Linked DNA regions of Homo sapiens: region 1 is linked to region 2. Evidence: fine-mapped expression QTL. A gene starts in region 2. The other region holds a variant in brackets. All regions are shown on one strand. Distances are from middle to middle.

What was found. PIP is the estimated chance that this variant, and not a neighbour inherited with it, causes the effect.
Region 1: its variant is the best candidate, but not a certain one, in a credible set for the expression of PRR13 in subcutaneous fat (GTEx, PIP 0.85).

The regions. Positions count from the first base shown.
Region 1 is chr12:53,384,869-53,389,253 of GRCh38, reverse strand. All of the region lies in intron 3 of SP1 (Sp1 transcription factor), which reads right to left. Among named protein-coding and RNA genes, the nearest start is that of SP1, 6.9 kb to the right of the region's middle. The variant A/G (reference allele first, on the strand shown) is at 2,346.
Region 2 is chr12:53,440,061-53,444,445 of GRCh38, reverse strand. It overlaps PRR13 (proline rich 13), which reads right to left and starts at 2,712. Exons shown (of 4, transcript NM_018457.4): 1 at 2,654-2,712; 2 at 1,713-1,751; 3 at 673-1,055. The coding sequence starts at 1,731. RefSeq lists a silencer at 2,715-2,864 and enhancers at 3,155-3,244, 2,975-3,740.

The DNA.
Region 1 (4,385 bases), 55 kb after region 2:
ATGAAACTCCGTCTCCCAAAAAAAAAAAAAAAAAAAAGATCATTTTAAAAAATAATGAATGTAAACAGACTAAGTGAACACCATGGAAGCTGCAATCTTCCACAATCATGTAATATATCTCATTTTGTACAGTGATATATACATGTATCATACAACATTTCACATCCAATGTTCTTTCTACATCGTACCAAGAAGTTGAACATACTGCAAAAAGGTTAAATTTTACAGTAAAATAACTATCAGAGAAGGGGGTAAAATTAGATACTTTTTTTTTTTGACAGGGACTCACCCTACTGCCCAGGCTGGAGTGCTGTGGCGTGATCATGGCTCACTGCGTCCTCAACCTCCCGGGCTCAGGCAATCCTCCCACCTCAGCCTCCCAAGTAGCTGGGACTATAGGCGTGTGCTACCATGCTCAGGTAATTTTCATATTTTTTGTAGAGATGGGGGATCCCTATGTTGCCCAGGCTGGTCTTGAACTCCTGAGCTCAAGAGATCTGCCTGCCTTGGCCTCCCAAAGTGCTGGGATTACAGGCATGAGCCACTACGCCTGGCCAAAACAAGATACTTTTGCCAGCAGGAAGGCAAAAGCTGAAAAAGGAGTAAGCCTCTAGGAAGTGATTTTATTATCTTTCTTTAAGGATGAAGTCATATCAATTAAAGGGGAAATACTACACAATTATTACTAGCCAGAAAGGAGAAAACTTGGATCTTCAAAAACCCCTATTAATGAAGCAAACAATCTCAACTCTTACAAAACAGCCTGTCAATGCCTCATTATCTCCTTAGTGAATGTCAAGCTCCTCTTACCTTACAGAAACACACACGCATTTTCTTCAGCTCAAACACCATCAGTAACAACTAGGTAGCCCTAGTCTATGACATATTAAATGGCAGACTTCCCCAGAGCATGATTTAGCAATGAGAATGCCTCATAACTGTTCTCTAAACCCTAAGTTATAAGCCTTTTAGAAATTGCAAGGATCCAAATTATTAACAGGAATAATCCCACAGTTTGCTCTGAAGAAGAGCAAAACCGGGCACTTCAATCTAAGAGCAAATAGAAAATAAACATGATGGTGTAGGTTGCCCAGAAGTGTCTAATTTTCTACGTTGTAGAGGTCAGTTTTTATAAAACTTTTCCCATTTCTATTCCCATAAATGTTTAGTTTATAAAACATTTTTATAAATGTTTTATAAACATCTGTCAGTTTTAGAGCATTAAATCTTAAATCAAAAACACCTTTTCGAATACATTTTTTTTTTTTGAGACGGAGTCTCGCTCTGTCACCCAGGCTGGAGTGCAGTGGCACAATCTCAGCTCACTGCACGCTCTGCCTCCCAGGTTCACATCATTCTCCTGCCTCAGCCTCCCTAGTAGCTGAGATTACAGGCACCCACCACCACGCCCAGCTAATTTTTTTGTATTTTTAGTAGAGATGCGGTTTCACCATGTTAGCCAGGATGGTCTTGATCTCCTGACCTCATGATCCGCCTGTCTCAGTCTCCCAAAGTGCTGGGATTACAGGCGTGAGCCACCAGGCTGGCTCGAATACATTTTTAACAATCTAAAGAATTGTTCAAGTCCCTAGTTAAAACAGGTTGCACCCTAGACTAGTAAAACTAGCCTCAGCTCTGGCTGTTGTCTCATTAAGTGATTCTCTGTACCTCAATTTCCTCATCTAGAAAATAAGGCAGTTGTACTAAATAACTTCAGTCCCTTCCAGCTCTAACTTTCAATTCTAAGATTTCAATTAACTAAGAAAATTACTGTCTTGTTAAAGCTCAACATGTAGTATTTCTAAACACACCACAGGAATGTAAGAAATCAGGGAACTTAAGCAGACTTTCCCCCTAGATTTACCAAAACTGCAGGAGGCAGGAAATATGGTTGCCTATTTGCTACCCTCACTTATGTAAGAATCAGTTAAATGGAATGAGAACTTGGTAACAAAAGTAAACAATTTATAAACCCACATATATATGCCAAAAGAACTAGAAGTGGCCAGGCGCAGTGGCTCACGCCTGTAATCCCAGCACTTTGGGAGGCCAAGGCGGGCGGATCACGAGGTCAGGAGTTCGAGACCAGCCTGACCAGCACAGTGAAATCCAATCGCTACTAAAAAAATACAAAAAATTAATGGGCATGGTGGGACGTGCCTGTAATCCCAGCTACTCGGGAGGCTGAGGCAGAAGAATTGCTTGAACCCGGAAGGCAGAGGTTGCAGTGAGCCAAGATCGCACCACTGCACTCCAGCCTGGGAGACAAGCTAGAGTCAGTCCCAAAAAAGAAAACGAAAAAAAAAAAAAAAACAAACCTAGAAGTTGGGTGATATTATTTGGTG[A/G]TATTAAACTATTTTCCGTATTTGTATAATTGTGCCAGCATATAAAGATGTATGTGTATCCTTTTATTGTGCTTTATTAAAGATTAGCTCCATACAATGGAATTTAAAATGATAAAGTCAGGCCGGGCATAGTGGCTCACACCTGTAATCCCAGCAGTTTGGGAGGCCAAGGCAGGCAGATCACTTGAGGTCAGGAGTTCGAGACCAGCCTGGTCAACACAGTGAAACCCCGTCTCCATTAAACAAACAATTAGGCGGGCATGGTGGCACACGCCTGTAATCCCAGCTACCTGGGAGGCTGAGGCAGGAGAATCACTGGAACTCAGGAAGGGGAGGTTGCAGTGAGCGGAGATTGCACCACTCCACTCACTACAGCCTGGGCAACAGAGCAAGACTCAGTCTCAAAAATGAAAAAAAAAAAAAAAAAAAGATACAGTCTACATAGACTTACATCTGTTTACTGTTTTAAATTTCAAATTAATAGTGAAACATTTAGTTCAAAATGAAAGACCCTGAACATTATGGTCAACAGATTCAATATTCTTCCCAGACTGTTTTTCCCTTCAATGCTCTCCTCATTCCTAACTCTTCTCAATCCTACATCCCCCACTCCATTCCAGACCCCAACTTACCCCACTCCCTTTCCTTCTCCCTTCCTAACCACACACAGTACTTTCAAAGCAGTCTAGGAAGTTAGACTGCTACCTAGAAGTATCAGAATCACCTAGGATGCTCATATGTTAGTGTGAAGGGAAGCTATGGGATTTTGTTTTTCAGATAACTAGGAGTTAAAAAAAAATTCAATCCTGATTAACCAGCACACTCAGAGTGTGGGATATTCTGGTTAATACTAACCAGGGAACTTACTTCGTTGAAAAGCAACCCGTTAGATCATTTTCCCTTCAATTAGGAGTTACAGTTCACAAGAAATATCTGATGATTTAATCTGTGTTCTACAAACAGGTAAAATTCATAATCAATTTTTTTTTTTTTTTTGAGACGGAGTCTCACTCTGTCACCCAGGCTGGAGTGCAGTGGCACGATCTTGGCTCGCTCCAAGCTCTGCCTCCCAGGTTCAAGCGATTCTCCTGCCTCAGCCTCCCAAGTAGCTGGGACTACAGGCTTGTACCACCACGCCCGGCTAATTTTTGTATTTTTAGTAGAGACGGGGTTTCACCATATTGGTCAGGCTGGTCTTGAACTCCTGACCTCATGATCTGTTCACCTCGGCCTCCCAAAGTGCTGGGATTATAGGCGTGAGCCACCGCGCCCAGCCCATAATCAAATTTATTTTTATTTATTTTTTTTTTTTTTGAGACGGAGTCTCGCTCTGTCACCCAGGCTGGAGTGCAGTGGCGCGATCTCGGCTCATTGCAACCTCCGCCTCCCTGGTTCAAGTGATTCTCCTGCCTCAGGCTCCTGAGTCGCTGGGACTACAGGTGCGCGCCACCATGCCCAGCTAATTTTTTGTATTTTTAGTAGAGACAGGGTTTCACAGTGTTAGCCAGGATGGTCTCGATCTCTTGACCTTGTGATCCACCCGCCTCGGCCTCCCAAAGTGCTGGAATTACAGGCGTGAGCCACCGCGCCCGGCCGCCTTTTATTTTTATTTTTTGAGACAGGGTCTTGCTCTGTCAACCAGGCTGGAGTGCAGTGATGTGATCTCGGCTCACTGCAGCCTCTGCCTCCCAGGTTCAAGCAATTCTTGGCCTCAGCCTCCTGAGTAGCTGGGACTACAGGCGCGCATCACCATGCCTGGCTAATTTTTTTATTTTTAGTAGAGAAGGGGTTTCGCCATGCTGGCCACGCTGGTCTTGAACTCCTGACCTCAGGTGACCCACCCACCTCAGCCTCCCAAAGTGCTGGGATTACAGGCGTGAGCCACCGTGCCCAGCCACCCGACTAATTTTTGTATTTTTTTTTTTTTTCAGAGTCTCACTCTGTTGCCCAGGCTGGAGTGCAGTGGTGCAATCTTGGCTCACTGCAACCTCTGCCTCCCAGATTCAAGCAATTCTCATGCCTTAGCCTCCCGAGTAGCTG
Region 2 (4,385 bases):
AGGCAGGAGAATGGCGTGAACCTGGGAGGCGGAGCTTGCAGTGAGCCGAGATTGTGCCACTGCAATCTGGCCTGGGCTAAAGAGCGGGACTCCGTCTCAAAAAAAAAAAAAAAAAACCTCCTTAGTCCTAGGCTTTGTTAGAAGCCTAGTCACTGACTGCTCTTGTCCTCACTTTTTCTGCTGGATGATAGGGCAAAGGACCCATGTAATTAACACAACGCCCTAAGAACACTGATGAAAGAGAGAAGGAACTTCTGGAACTAGGGACAGATTAATTCTGTTAATTATTATAAGACCTTGCTTTGTCAAAGGAATGACTTTGGTATTTTGACAATGTCAGTGGGCGTGTCCAACTTGCTAGAATATGCACCTGGCGGGAGGGGAGCAAAAGTTCTGGGAGAGTAGGGCAGAAAAGATTTGGCTTTTGATTCTAAAATCCATTCTAAGGCTCACCCTAACTCCCCCCAGATAGGAGAAGCCTGATGTTTATTTTCAAGATAATCAGATTCTTCCCAGTAGCAATCTTTTATAAAAAGGAAGAATCATCTACCAGAGCGACACAATTGTCATCCCTCACGTCCACAGAATGTGAATCCCCCTCACCCAACCCCTGCCTACCTAGTCCCTCTGAGGGGGGACTCCTTCCCTAGCCAGTCTCCAGAGGGTACTGACCTTGCCATGCTTGTGGTACTTGTGGTGCTTTTGGTGCTTGTGCATCTTTTTATGAGCTTTCTTCATTTTCTTCTGCATCTTCTTGTCTACTATCACTGCTGGTCCAACCATGCCAGGAGCCAAGGGATTCACAGGAGGGATTCCAGGGGCAGGCGGTGGGTATGGAGGAGGGTAGGGACCCAACGGTTGGCATCCTGGATACCCTGGCTGTGGCACAGGATGAGGGGGCCCACCTGGGGGGAAAGCTGGATTGCCATGGGGAGCTCCTGGGGGAGGAGGACAGGGGCCTGGGGGAAAGGGTGGATTAATAGGTGGTGGGTGGGCAGGATTGGAACCTCCAGGGCACCCAATATTGGGGGGATATGGATTTGGCCCTGGCTGCCCTGGTGGAAGAAGCAGAGAATAAACATTAGAATTCCCCAGAGTCTCCAACAACAAACAACAAAAAGAAAGAGATTCTTTCTCACTCAATACTTAAAGGGAAACGGAAAGATGACAAAGAAGAATGGAGGGTAGGGGAGACAAACTTGAGTTGGGGAGAAAAGGGGGAATGTCCCTGGAAGGGCTAGGGAGAGGAGGGAGACAGTGAACTCTGAGGAAGACAAAAGCACTGGTCAGTCCAGGCGCGGTGGCTCACGCCTGTAATCCCAGCACTTTGGGAGGCCGAGGTGGACAGATCTCATGAGGCCATGAGTTTGAGACCAGCCTGGCCAAATTGTGAAACCCCCATCTCTACTAAAAATACAAAAAGTAGCCGGGCGTGATAGCATGCGTCTGTAATCTCAGCTACTCCAGAGGCTGAAACAGGAGAATCGCTTGAACCCAGGAGGCGGAGGTTGCAGTGAGCCTGGGCAACAGAGACTCCATCTCAAAAAATAAATAAATTAAATTAAATTAAAAAGCACTGGTCAGCTCTAGACTAAGGACTTTGCTTTTGCGGGTACAGCAGGTCGGGGGTAGGGGAGCTGATACAGAAACTTCCTGTTATAGAGCCCATCAGAAAAAGGGTTAGGGGTGGAACAGAACCCCCAAACACCTACCGGCATTGGGATTCCACATGTTTAGGTGTGTCCTCCAGCCTGAGGAGAAAGAAATGAGGCAAAAAAGATGACGGTCTAGAGGTAGGAAGTGGACTTAGCACCGGAGCCCAGCCCTAACGTCTTCCACCCCACAGTAGGCTCTCCTACCTGGAGAACTACCACAACTTCCACATAAGAAATGTCTCTTTTCTGGCTGGGCGCGGTGGCTCACGCCTGTAATCCCAGCACTTTGGGAGGCCGAGGCGGGTGGATCACGAGGTCAAGAGTTCGAGACCAGCCTGGCCAACATCGTGAAACCCCGTCTCTACTAAAAATCTAAAAATTAGCCGGGCGCGGTGGCGGGCACCTGTAATCCCAGTTATTCGGGAGGCTGAGTCAGGAAAATTGCTTGAACCCGGGAGGCAGAGGTTGCAGTGAGCCGAGACCGCGCCACTGCACTCTAGCCTGGGCGACGGAGCAAGACACCGTCTCAAAAAGAAAAGAAAAGAAAAGAAATGTCTCTTTCCACTTGTTTCTTCGCCCTCAATACCTACTTGGTTCCTAACACAGGAATCTAGTTCCCAGGGCCCCTCCACCCAGGTGGAAGCGTCTAACTCTTCGGAAGTAGGCAGTACCCGCGAGTCTCGGCCCCACCATCACTCATCTCCCTTTCCCTGGAACTGAGTACGGAGGCCTTTAACCACGCACAGAGTAAGAAAGGATCTCAAACAACTTTCTCTCTCCCTGGGGAGGACCCCACCTCAGGCTAAAAAAAGGATACGCCTCGAGGCGAAGTAAGAAGGAAGTTGCCCAAGAACCTCAAATACTTAAATATGTGGACACAGCCCCCTTCCTCCAAAAAAGAAAAAAGGCAAATGAAGATCCTAGCCCCAAGCTGCGAAGAGACTCTTGACCTAGCAAGGGGAAAAGGAAAAACCTATGGAATCCAGATACCCCATCACCTTTCCACCGCCGCCTGGGCTTGCTGCGTTCTCCTTCGCAGTCTCGGCTCTTCCTAGTCACCCAGACCCCGTGCTTCGGCACCCGCCTCTGCTACTGCCTAATTGGTAATTATGTGGCCGCTCGACTGATGATTAGACAACAAACTAATCAATCACTCTGGTCCGACTGAGGAGGAAACGGTTGCTCTAGGGGCGGAGCGGAGCCCTTTACGGCTAGGCCAGTACCGAGAAGCCGGAAATCTCCTGGGGGCGGGGCTAGGCGGAGAGCGCTGGAGGGGGCGGGGCCAGCTGCTGGGCAAAGTCCTAGAGACACCGAGAAGAAACTCTTCCCTTGCTCTCTTACCTCATGGTTCACTGGGTGCAATACCTTGTAAAATGAATACACTATGGTAAGTGTTGTAATACAGATATAGACAGAGTTCTCGGCAAGGGCAGAAGAGCTGCTGAGTCCCAGCCCCAAGCCTCAATGTTCCCGGCTCCGTCTTACACTCGCAAGGGAAGCAAACAAACATTCTTGCGGAAGATACAGAGATTTCATAATCTCTCCCAGGATTCCCTCTCTCAATTGCATAGCTCCGCCATCTGTCAAGTAGCCTAAACCAGAAACCAAGGAGGGCGTCCGTGATCCCTCTGCCTCCTTCACCTCCCTTACCCCAAATTATCAGTTTTGTCTCTCAAATATATCTGGAATCTCTCCACTTCTCTCTGTCTTCCCTGCTCCAAACCTCCCATCATCTGTCGCCTGGATTCATCTCTCCCCTGAATTGCTACAATGGCCTCCCTACAATGGCCTCCCTTTTTTTTTTTTTTTTTTTTTTTGAGACGGAGTCTCGCTCTGTCACGAGGCTGGAGTGCAGTGGTGCGACCTCGGCTCACTGCAACCTCCGCTTCCCGGGTTCAAGCGATAATCCTGCCTCAGCCTCCGAAGTAGCTGGGACTACAGACGCGGCTAATTTTTCTATTTTTTAGTAGAGATGGGATTTCACCATGTTGGCCAGGATGGTCTCGCTCTCTTGACTTCGTGATCTGCCCGCCTCGGCCTCCCAAAGTGCTGGGATTATAGGCGTGAGCCACCGTACCCAGCCTTTAAAAAAAAAAAAAAAATACAAGTGGCCGGGCGCAGTGGCTCACGCCTGTAATCCCAGCACTTTGGGAGGCCGAGGCAGGCGGATCACAAGGTCAGGAGTTCGAGACCAGCCTGGCCAATATGGTAAAACCCCGTTTCTACTAAAAATACAAAAATTAGCCGGGCGTGGTGACATGTGCCTGTAATCCCAGCCACTTGAGAGGCTGAGGCAGGAGAATCGCTTGAACCCGGGAGGTTGCAGTGAACCGAGATCACGCCATAGCACTCCAGCCTGGGCAACAGAGCGAGACTCCATCTCAAAAAAAAAAAGAAAGAAAGAAAGAAAGAAAGTGAGCTAGGCATGGTGGCACATACCTGTAATCCCAGCTAGTGGGAAGGCTGAGGCATGAGAATCGCTTGAACCTGGGAGGGAGAGGGTGCAGTGAGCCAAGATCATGCCACTGCACTCCAGACTAAGCAACAGAGCAGGACTCTGTTTCAAAAAAAAAAAAAAAAAAAAGTGGGATACAAAAAAATTTAAGACAATAAATTTTATGCCAAATATGTCATATTAAACTAAAGCATTTGAAATATTTTAAACTTTTTTTCTTTTAATTTTTATTTTTAGTGCTGGGGTACATGTGCATGATGTGCAGGTTTGTTACA